Regions from separate parts of the Homo sapiens genome. Here region 2 is reported to be linked to region 1. The links are microRNA targets in miRTarBase. Many come from high-throughput screens and were not tested one by one. Region 1 holds a microRNA gene; the other region holds the end of a gene's coding sequence. Distances are from middle to middle.

Evidence for each region. Region 1 holds the annotated microRNA hsa-miR-3908 (GAGCAAUGUAGGUAGACUGUUU, at 2,497-2,518, opposite strand). A microRNA usually pairs through its seed, bases 2 to 8, with sites in the 3' UTR of a target mRNA and lowers its output. Matches are read on the target gene's strand: a 7mer-m8 pairs with bases 2 to 8, a 7mer-A1 pairs with bases 2 to 7 and ends in A, and an 8mer does both.
Region 2: the mRNA of NAA25 is a reported target of hsa-miR-3908. Seed matches in the 3' UTR shown: 7mer-m8 at 1,478-1,484.

What each region holds. Positions count from the first base shown.
Region 1 is chr12:123,534,537-123,538,930 of GRCh38, reverse strand. MIR3908 (microRNA 3908) reads right to left here and starts at 2,522; the gene lies at 2,397-2,522. RefSeq lists a silencer at 4,284-4,394.
Region 2 is chr12:112,025,751-112,030,144 of GRCh38, forward strand. It overlaps NAA25 (N-alpha-acetyltransferase 25, NatB auxiliary subunit), which reads right to left. Exons shown (of 24, transcript NM_024953.4): 24 at 939-3,903. The coding sequence ends at 3,781. Among named protein-coding and RNA genes, the nearest start is that of MIR3657, 9.8 kb to the right of the region's middle.

The DNA of each region.
Region 1 (4,394 bases):
CAGGTTCAAGCAATCCTCCTGTCTCAGCCCCCTAAGTAACTGGGGCTACAGGCACATGCCACCATGCCCAGCTAAATTTTTGTATTTTTTGTAGAGATGGGGTTTCTCCATGTTGCCCAGGCTGGTGTCCAACTCCTGAGCTCAAGCAATCCACCTGCCTTGGCCTCCCAAAGTGCTGGGATTATAGGACTGAGCCACCACACCTGACCTAAAAACTTTTTTTATAGAGATCGAGTCTCACTACACTGCCCAGGCTGGTCTCCAACTCCTGGGCTCAAGTGATCCTCCCTCTTCCACCTCCGAAAGTGTTGGGATTACAGGCGTGAGCCACTATGCCCAGCTAGTTTTGTTTCAAGTCACCAAGTTTGTGGCAATTCGTTATAGTAGCTACAGGAAATCAGCACACCTTTCCCTGCCTCCCTGTCTTTAACTTAGAAAGTGGACAGCAAGGCCAGGCGTGGCTCACACCTGTAATCCCAGCACTTTGGGAGGCCGAGGGGGGCAGATCACGAGGTCAAGAGATCGAGACCATCCTGGCCAACATGATGAAACCCCATCTCTACTAAAAATACAAAAATTAGCCAAGTGTAGTGGCACATGCCTGTAGTCCCAGCTACTTGGGAGGCTGAGGCAGGAGAATCGCTTGAACCCTGGAGGCAGAGGCTGCAGTGAGCCGAGATCACGCCACTGCACTCCAGCCTGACAACACAGCTAGACTCAATCTCAAAAAAAAAAAAAAAAAAAAAAGAAGAAGAAGAAAAAGGGGACAGCACTGGCCAGGCACAGTGGCTCACACTGTAATCCCAGCACTTTGGGAGGCCAACGTGGGTGGATCACCTGAGGTCAGGAGTTCGAGACCAGCCTGGCCAACATGGTGAACCTTTGTATCTACTAAAAATACAAAAATTAGCTGGGCATGGTGTCAGGTGCCTGTAGTCCCAGCTACTAAGGAGGCTGAGGCAGGAGAATTGCTTGAACCTGGGAGGCAGAGATTGAAGTGAGCTGAGATTTTGCCACCGCACTCCAGCCTGGGTGACAGAGCGAGAATCCGTCTCAATAAAAGAAAAAAGAAAAGAAAGGGGACAGCAATAATATGTCAGCTTCATTTGGGTTGTTGGAAGGATCCAGAAGGTTTAGAGTGCTTAGCACGTGTAAGGAACAAGGATGAGAAGGTTATGGCACAGACTCGAGGCCAGACTGCGCAGGTCTGACCCTGAATTTACCTTCACCAGCTGCCTGGCTTTGGGTGAGCCTTTTAACCTCTCTGTGCCTCAGTTTCCTCATTTGTAAAATAAGATAATAAAATTTACCTCTTAGGATGTTATAAGGCAGAAGTTCTGAAACTTTTTGGCCTCAGAGCCCCTTTACACTAAAACAATATTTAAAGAGTTTTTGTTTGTTTGTTTGTTTTTGTTTTTTTTTGTTTGTTTTTTTGAGACAGAGTCTCACTCTGTTGCCCAGGCTGGAGTGAAGAGGCATGACCTTGGCTCACTGCAACCTCCGTCTCCTGAGTTCAAGGAATTCTCGTGCCTCAGCCTCCCTAGTAGCTCGTATTACAGGCACGGGCCACACACCGGCTAATTTTTATATTTTTAGTAGAGACAGGATTTCACCATGTTGGGCAGGCTGGTCTCAAACTCCCGATCTGAGGTGATCCGCCCACCTCAGCCTCCCAAAGTGCTAGGATTACAGGCGTAAGCCACTGTGTCTAGCCTTGAAAGAGCTTTTGTTAGGTGAGTTATATCTGCTCATATCTACTGTAAATAGAAATTTATAATCCCAGCTAACTCAGGAGGCTGAAGTGGGAGGACCGCTTGAGCCCAGGAGTTTGAGGCTGCAGTGAGCTACGATCGCACCACTGCACTACCTTGGGCAACAGAACTAGACCCTGAAAAGAAAGAAAGAAAGAAAGAGAGAGAGAGGGAGGGAGGGAGGGAGGGAGGGAGGGAGGGAGGGAGAGAGAAAGAGAGAGAAAGGAAAGAAAGAAAGAAAGAAAGAAAGAAAGAAAGAAAGAAAGAGAAAGGAAAGGAAAGGAAAGGAAGAAAGAAAGGGGAGGGGAGGGGAGGGAAGGGAAGAAGAAGAAAAAGAAAAGAAAAGAAAAGAAATTTAAACTGATGCTTTAAAAAATATTAATTAAAAAATAGTCCGGGAGGATGGCTTATGCCTGTAATCCCAGCACTTTGGGAGGCTGAGGCAGGCAGATTGCCTGAGGTCAGGAGTTCGAGATCAGTCTGGCTAACATGGTGAAACCCCCTCTCTACTAAAAATACAAAAAAATCGGCCAGGCATGGTGGCATGCGCCTGTAATCCTAGCTACTTGGGGGCTGAGGCAGGGAAATTGCTTGAACCTGGGAGGTCGAAGCTGCAGCGAGCTGAGATCGAGCCACTGCACTCTAGCCTGGCGACAGAGGGAGACTCTGTCTCCAAAAAAAAAAAAAAAAATTAGTAAACACATTACACGTTAACATAAATTTTTTTAACTTTTTATTTTTTTAGAAACAGTCTACCTACATTGCTCAGGCTAGACTAGAACTCTTGAACTCAAGGGATCCTCCCACTGGAGTAGCTGGAACTACAGGCTCACGCCACCGTGCTAGATAACGTATGAGTTTTTTTGTTGTTTTTGAGACAGGGTCTCCCTATGTCACCCAGGTTGGAGTGCAGTGGTGTAATCACAGCTCACTGCAACCTCTGCTCCCTGGGACTCAAGTCATCCTTCCACCTCAGTCTCCCGAGTAGCTGGGACTACAGGCACTTGCCACCAGAGTCGGGTAATTTTTATTTAATTAATTAATTAATTTATTTATTTATTTATTTTGAGACAGAGTCTCGCTTTGTCACCCAGGCTGGAGTGCAGTGGCACGATCTCGATCTCAGCTCACTGCAACCTCTGCCTCCCGGGTTCAAGTGATCCTCCTGCCTCAGCCTCCTGAGTAGCTGGGATTACAGGCGCCTGCCACCACGCCTGGCTAATTTTTTTTTTTTTTTGTATTTTTAGTAGAGATGAGGTTTCACCATGTTGGCCAGGCTGATCTTGAACTCCTGACCTCAACTGATCTGCCCCCCTTGGCCTCCCAAAGTGCTGGGATTACAGGCATAAGTCACTGCAACCAGACTTTTTTTTAAATAGAGACGGGGTTTTGCCATGCTGCCCAGGCTGGTCTCGAAATCTTGGGCTCAAGTGATCCTCCAGCCCTGGCCTCCCAAAGTGCTAGGATTACAAGCATGAGCCACTGTGGCCAGGAGTATTTATTTTTATTTTTTATTTTTCTGAGACAGAGTTTCGCTCTGTCGCCCAGTTTGGAGCATAGTGGTGTGATCTCAACTCACTGCAACCTCTGCCTCCCAGGCTCAAGGGATCTTCCCACCTCAGCCTCCCAAATACCTGGGACTACAGGCTCTCACCACCACGTCTGGCTAATTTTTTTATTTTACTTTTTTTTTTTTCTTTTTTTTTTTTGAGACGGAGTTTCGCTCTTGTTGCCCAAGCTGGAGTGCAGTGGCACGATCTTGGCTCACTGCAACCTCTGCCTCCCAGGCTCAAATGATTCTCGCGCCTCAGCCTCTTGAGTAGCTGGGATTACAGGCACATGCCACCATGTCTGGCTAATTTTTGTATTTTTAGTAGAGGCGTGGTTTCACCATGTTGGCCAGGCTGGTCTCGAACTCCTGAGCTCTAGAAATTTTCCCACCTCGGCCTCCCAAAGTGCTGGGATTACAGGCGTGAGCCACCCCGCCTGGCCTTAATTTTTTTTTTTTTACTATTTATTTATTTATTTATTGTATTATATTATTATTTTGAGATGGAGTCTTGCTCTGTCACCCAGCCTGCAGTGCAGTGGCGCGATTTCGGCTTGCTGCAACCTCCGCCTCCCGGGTTTAAGCAACTCTCTGCCTCAGCCTCCTGAGTAGCTGGGATTACAGGCATGCGCCACCATGCCCGGCTAATTTTTGTATTTTTAGTAGAGACGGGGTTTCACCACCTTGGCTAGGCTGGTCTTGAACTCCTGACCTCGTCCACCTCAGTCTCCCAAAGTGCTGGGATTACAGGCGTGAGCCACCGCGCCCGGCCAACTTTTAGATTTTTAATCAATACGTGCCACGTTGGGGTGCGCTTTATGGCTACAAGGGCATTAAGATTTCTTCCCTCAAGGAGCCAAGATCTGACGGTGGAAACCTACCTGCAACCACACGGTGAAAACTCAGGATGCTAAGAGCAATCCTGATGGGGCAAGCAGGGGACTGTGAGTTTGCAAGGGGGTCCTTAACTCCTGCGTGGGGGGCGGGGAGGGTGGATGGGGTTCTGGGTTCAGGAAACGTTCTCCCGGGAGTGGGAGGGGGTCTGATGGACAAGTGGATTTGGCCAGCCCAAATGGACAGGGGGCCTTGGGACA
Region 2 (4,394 bases), 12 Mb from region 1:
CCACTGCACTCCAGCCTGGCGACAGAGCGAGACTCCGTCTCAAAAAAATAAAAGAAAAACCTTGGGATGGAGTTAATTCATAACTGAAGAAACAGGCAAAAACTGACTCTTTGGGGCTCATACAAGACAATATCACAGGACAGAAAGTAAAAAAGAGCTAAGTTCCTACTTTCACTGTGTTGTCAATGTACCTGAATAAGTTCCGAATCCCAGCTTGTGGGTTCGAGTACCCTTGGATAAATCATGTCATCAGCCTGCCTGAAATCCTCTGGTAACTTCCCACTAAATTTAGAATAAAATCTCATTCCTTCCCCGGACTACTAAGTCCTGATGGCTCTCATCCCTACTCAACTTTCTATCTCAATCCTACCCCTTTCATTAAGTCCCAGCCACTTGAACATTTTTTCACTTCCTGGAACCGGCTCAGCAGTTTCCTGCCTTGGGGCATTTGCATGTGTGTTACTTTTTTCCTGACAGTTCATCATTCAGATCAGAGGTCACCACTTAGGAGGTCCTCCTGTGACCCATTCTGAAGTGACCCTCTAGACACACTCAATTCACATACTGTGATTTACATTATTAAGCAGGATGTAATTACAAACTAATATTTTTATTGCCTCTTCCCCACCTCACAGCCACTAACTAGGATATATGTTACTCACTTACTAACTAGGACACAGGGTCTCACCAGAGCCTAAAGTGGAATCTGCTATATGCTAATTTAAGTGTTCAATACATATATGTTGAATTAATAACTGCAAGTACAGAAGGTACTAACTTTTGAGTCAAAAGGACTAGCTGACTTCAAATAAAAATTCTAAATTCTCAAATATTAAAAATATGTTGGGATATAGCCCTAAATTCACAACTGAGATGAATTACACCATTCAGAAGGTTGTGGCTTCTAAGAATCTGAACAAAAAGGAACCAGGCAGAAATGCCAACTTAAAATGAAAATGTTTATATAAATTAACCCATCCAGTTTAAAGTAGATTTGCTATGCTTCACTTACTTAAGGAAGAATATATACTTCCTATATTAATAAATCACATCAAATAAGTAGGAAGTTTCAATAACAAGCCTGTAGATACATTGAAACCCCTTTTTATATTAAAAGTTAAAATGAAAGACAAATCCAGATTGAACATAGTGATTGCAAAATATAATGCAATTTTCAACAATTAAAATTATGAAAATATACAAAATTGATGGGCAACACAACTAGGCATTTGTACATTTTCCATTATGTGGAGAACACTACAAGTTTCTCTACCTTTTATCTACATCAGATAAATGATTTAAACCAAATGTTTGCTTTGGAGAGTCTTAACTTAGGATCTCAGTAGTATAAAAAGCAATAATTTTTCAGTCTGTAAACAGTAGTCGTGATTTTTCTCCTTTCCTTTTTTAAATATCAGTTTACCACACAAAAACAAACAAAACAAAAAAACCCATACAAATCAAAAACAGCAGCAGCAGCAATGGGTTATTTGGGAATTCTCTTCAAATACCAATGGCATACGATTGCTGGGAGAGGGTGCTTTTTACTCATGTAAGAATATATATATATATATATTTTTTTAACTGTACACAATTTATAGTACATGAGGGTTTCCAAAAGAACAGATTGATAAGAGATATTGGCCATTTCTGCATAATTTCATTCTTTTTACAATTATCTCAAAATGTGAAAGCTGGATCTAATTGAAATGCTACATTTAGTAGGAAAATCAGCAAATAACAAAGGAAGCATAACCTCAACATAACATTATTTGTCATTAAAGCCAGTAGAGGTCCCAGATATCTTTAGGCAAGAGACTGGTTAGGAAGACCACTAGAGTCACACACTGTCCCTGAGGACCAAGGCTAGCCCACTGAACATACATATGCTAGATTGATCATGGTCAGTCGATAGACTTTTTCAAAGAGCATTTCTACAGTACAGTACTTTTTTGGATATTCAGAGAGACATCATTTCAAGAACACACGCCATACACATGTACCCCACCCTCCCCAGCAGACACACACAAAGTTCCATCTTAAACAGGCCATAGTTTTATGAAAGAATATGTTGTCATTACATGAAATTCAGAATTAACCACAATTTTCCATTCATCTTGTTCAAGACAGTTCTTCCTTTTGGGATAGGGTATATGACCAGCTGTTGCTACTCATATCAAAAATAAATTTTTGAAATTAGTTGATGGACTAGGATTTCCAACAAGCCTTATTTTGAACAGGTAATGTAGTAATTGTTTAAAATTTCCTTGGAAGTTTAAGCACTGTATCAAATTATGAATCTAAGAAAGTCAAAATGAAGGGACAAAATGCAATTACTTTGCGTACACAGATATTCCCAGCTCTCTTGGTTGCTTTTAAAAGAAAAAAGTACCACATTTCACTGGAGCAGTGCAGGTTGGAAAGCACCTTTAAGGTCTTCAAGACCAATCCTCCATTGGATGCTTAATTTCCTCATCAAATTCATTTCTTTGCTCTTACAGAATTAAACTTGAACTATATTTAGGTAACAGACCAAAAACAGAAGCAGGGATTTAAACAGAAAAATATTATCAAAGAAACTGCATAAATTGTAGGACATTTTCAAGAGCAATTTTTACCTCTTCTATCAGACCAACCACTGATAGAAGAAGCTAGAGTCTTGGGGACATCCAGGTGAACAAAGTAAACACCATCCTGTTATAATTCTCTAAGTTTGAAGAAAGTAGTCCAAACCTCAAACCCACTGAATAACATTTCTTTTGCCAGCCTAAAACTTAAAGCCTAAGGCTAAATCCATAATATTACATTCCTTCCTTCCCAAACCCCCCACACTTAAAACATTAAAGTATTAAATCTTAATTTTCAAGTCATATATATATGTGTATATATATATATGTATATATATGACTCACAAAACCAATGAAATAAGTATCATACTTGCCTGCATAAATTATGTGCACCTCTCTTCTTTGAAACAGTCATTCCTATCTTTCCCAAATGTATGAAAGACAGAAAGCTAGTCCTCAGCGGGCTTAATAAGTGGTCTGCACTGCTTTCCCCTCTAAACAGCTATAAATTAACAGAGCCTTCCTTGCCTTCTTACCTGAGATTTTTAACTCTCACAGAAGCTAGGATGGGGATGTCTTAACTATCAGACAAAAACTAGCCAAAAACTAAGTGCCTGTGGTCATCCAAGTGGTGCCCTTCTATTGCGGGTGCATATGCCAGATCTCATCTAAGGTCCTTTGTGTACCTGCCTTGGGTTCTGTGGGAGCCAAGTAGCTGAGAAAGCCTCAAAACAAACTTACTGCTGTGAAAAGGGGGTCTGTTCCCAGGCATGGTCTCCCCTCCACTTCTTGTGGCTCAAGGACCAGACCAAAAACTCTCAATGTTATTTATAATGGAAGGGCTATTCAGTTGCTATGAGGTTGATGCTTTATGCTTAATTTCTATTGCTGTTTTTATAGACCCCCCGCTCCCCTGAAAAGATGTTTCTGGTGATGGGAAGAAGAAAAGTAGGGTTCTCTTGTTGCTGCCATATGCATATGAACATGTATAAAAAGTGGTCAAACCCAGATGAGGGTCCCGCTTCTGGTTTATATACAATAATTTAATCAGTTGTATATATTTAACACCTAAAAAAATTCACGATCAAAGTCCTTCATGCATTTTATGAGGAAGTTCTGGATTAAAATCATGGTCAACCAGATGTTGCTTTTGCCTGGGAAGATGGTGTCATATTCTGTTGCAGAGTCATCAGTGCCCATGATAGATACTTCCTTAAATTTTTAGTTTCTTTGTGGTCTCAAGTCTTTTTTTCAGCAGCTCCCCCATTTCCAGAAGTGAGTGCAGATAACTGCTCTGCACCTTCCCTTGCACAGTCTTTGAAAATTTTCTCTCTTCCTATAAAGGAGGAGACAAGAATAATTAGTCTTGTTTAAAAACCATCCCCCCAGATTCTAGTTCTCAGATAAAAGTTAAAGCTGCCATTACCTTTGGTCTCATTGCAAGCTCCATCAGAACACAGTGGGTCATTTTCAATTGCATAAAATGCAAAGAAGGCAAAAGGTCATCACGAATGGGTATTTTTCGATGTGATTCTTCATGGAAACCCTATTGCTTTAGCATCATTACTCTTTCAAGTACCCTTTGTTGTAAGTTATATAAGGTAGAAAAACTGGGCCAGGCACGGTGGCTCACGCCTGTAATTCCAACACTTTGGGATGCCCAGGCAGGTGGATCACTTGAGCCCAGGAGTTTGAAACCAGCCTGGTCAACATGGTGAAACCCCATCTCTACTAAAAATACAAAACTTAGCCAGGCATGGTGTCACACACCTGTAATCCCAGCTACTTGGGAAGCTGAGGCACGAGAATTGCTTGAACTCTAGAGGT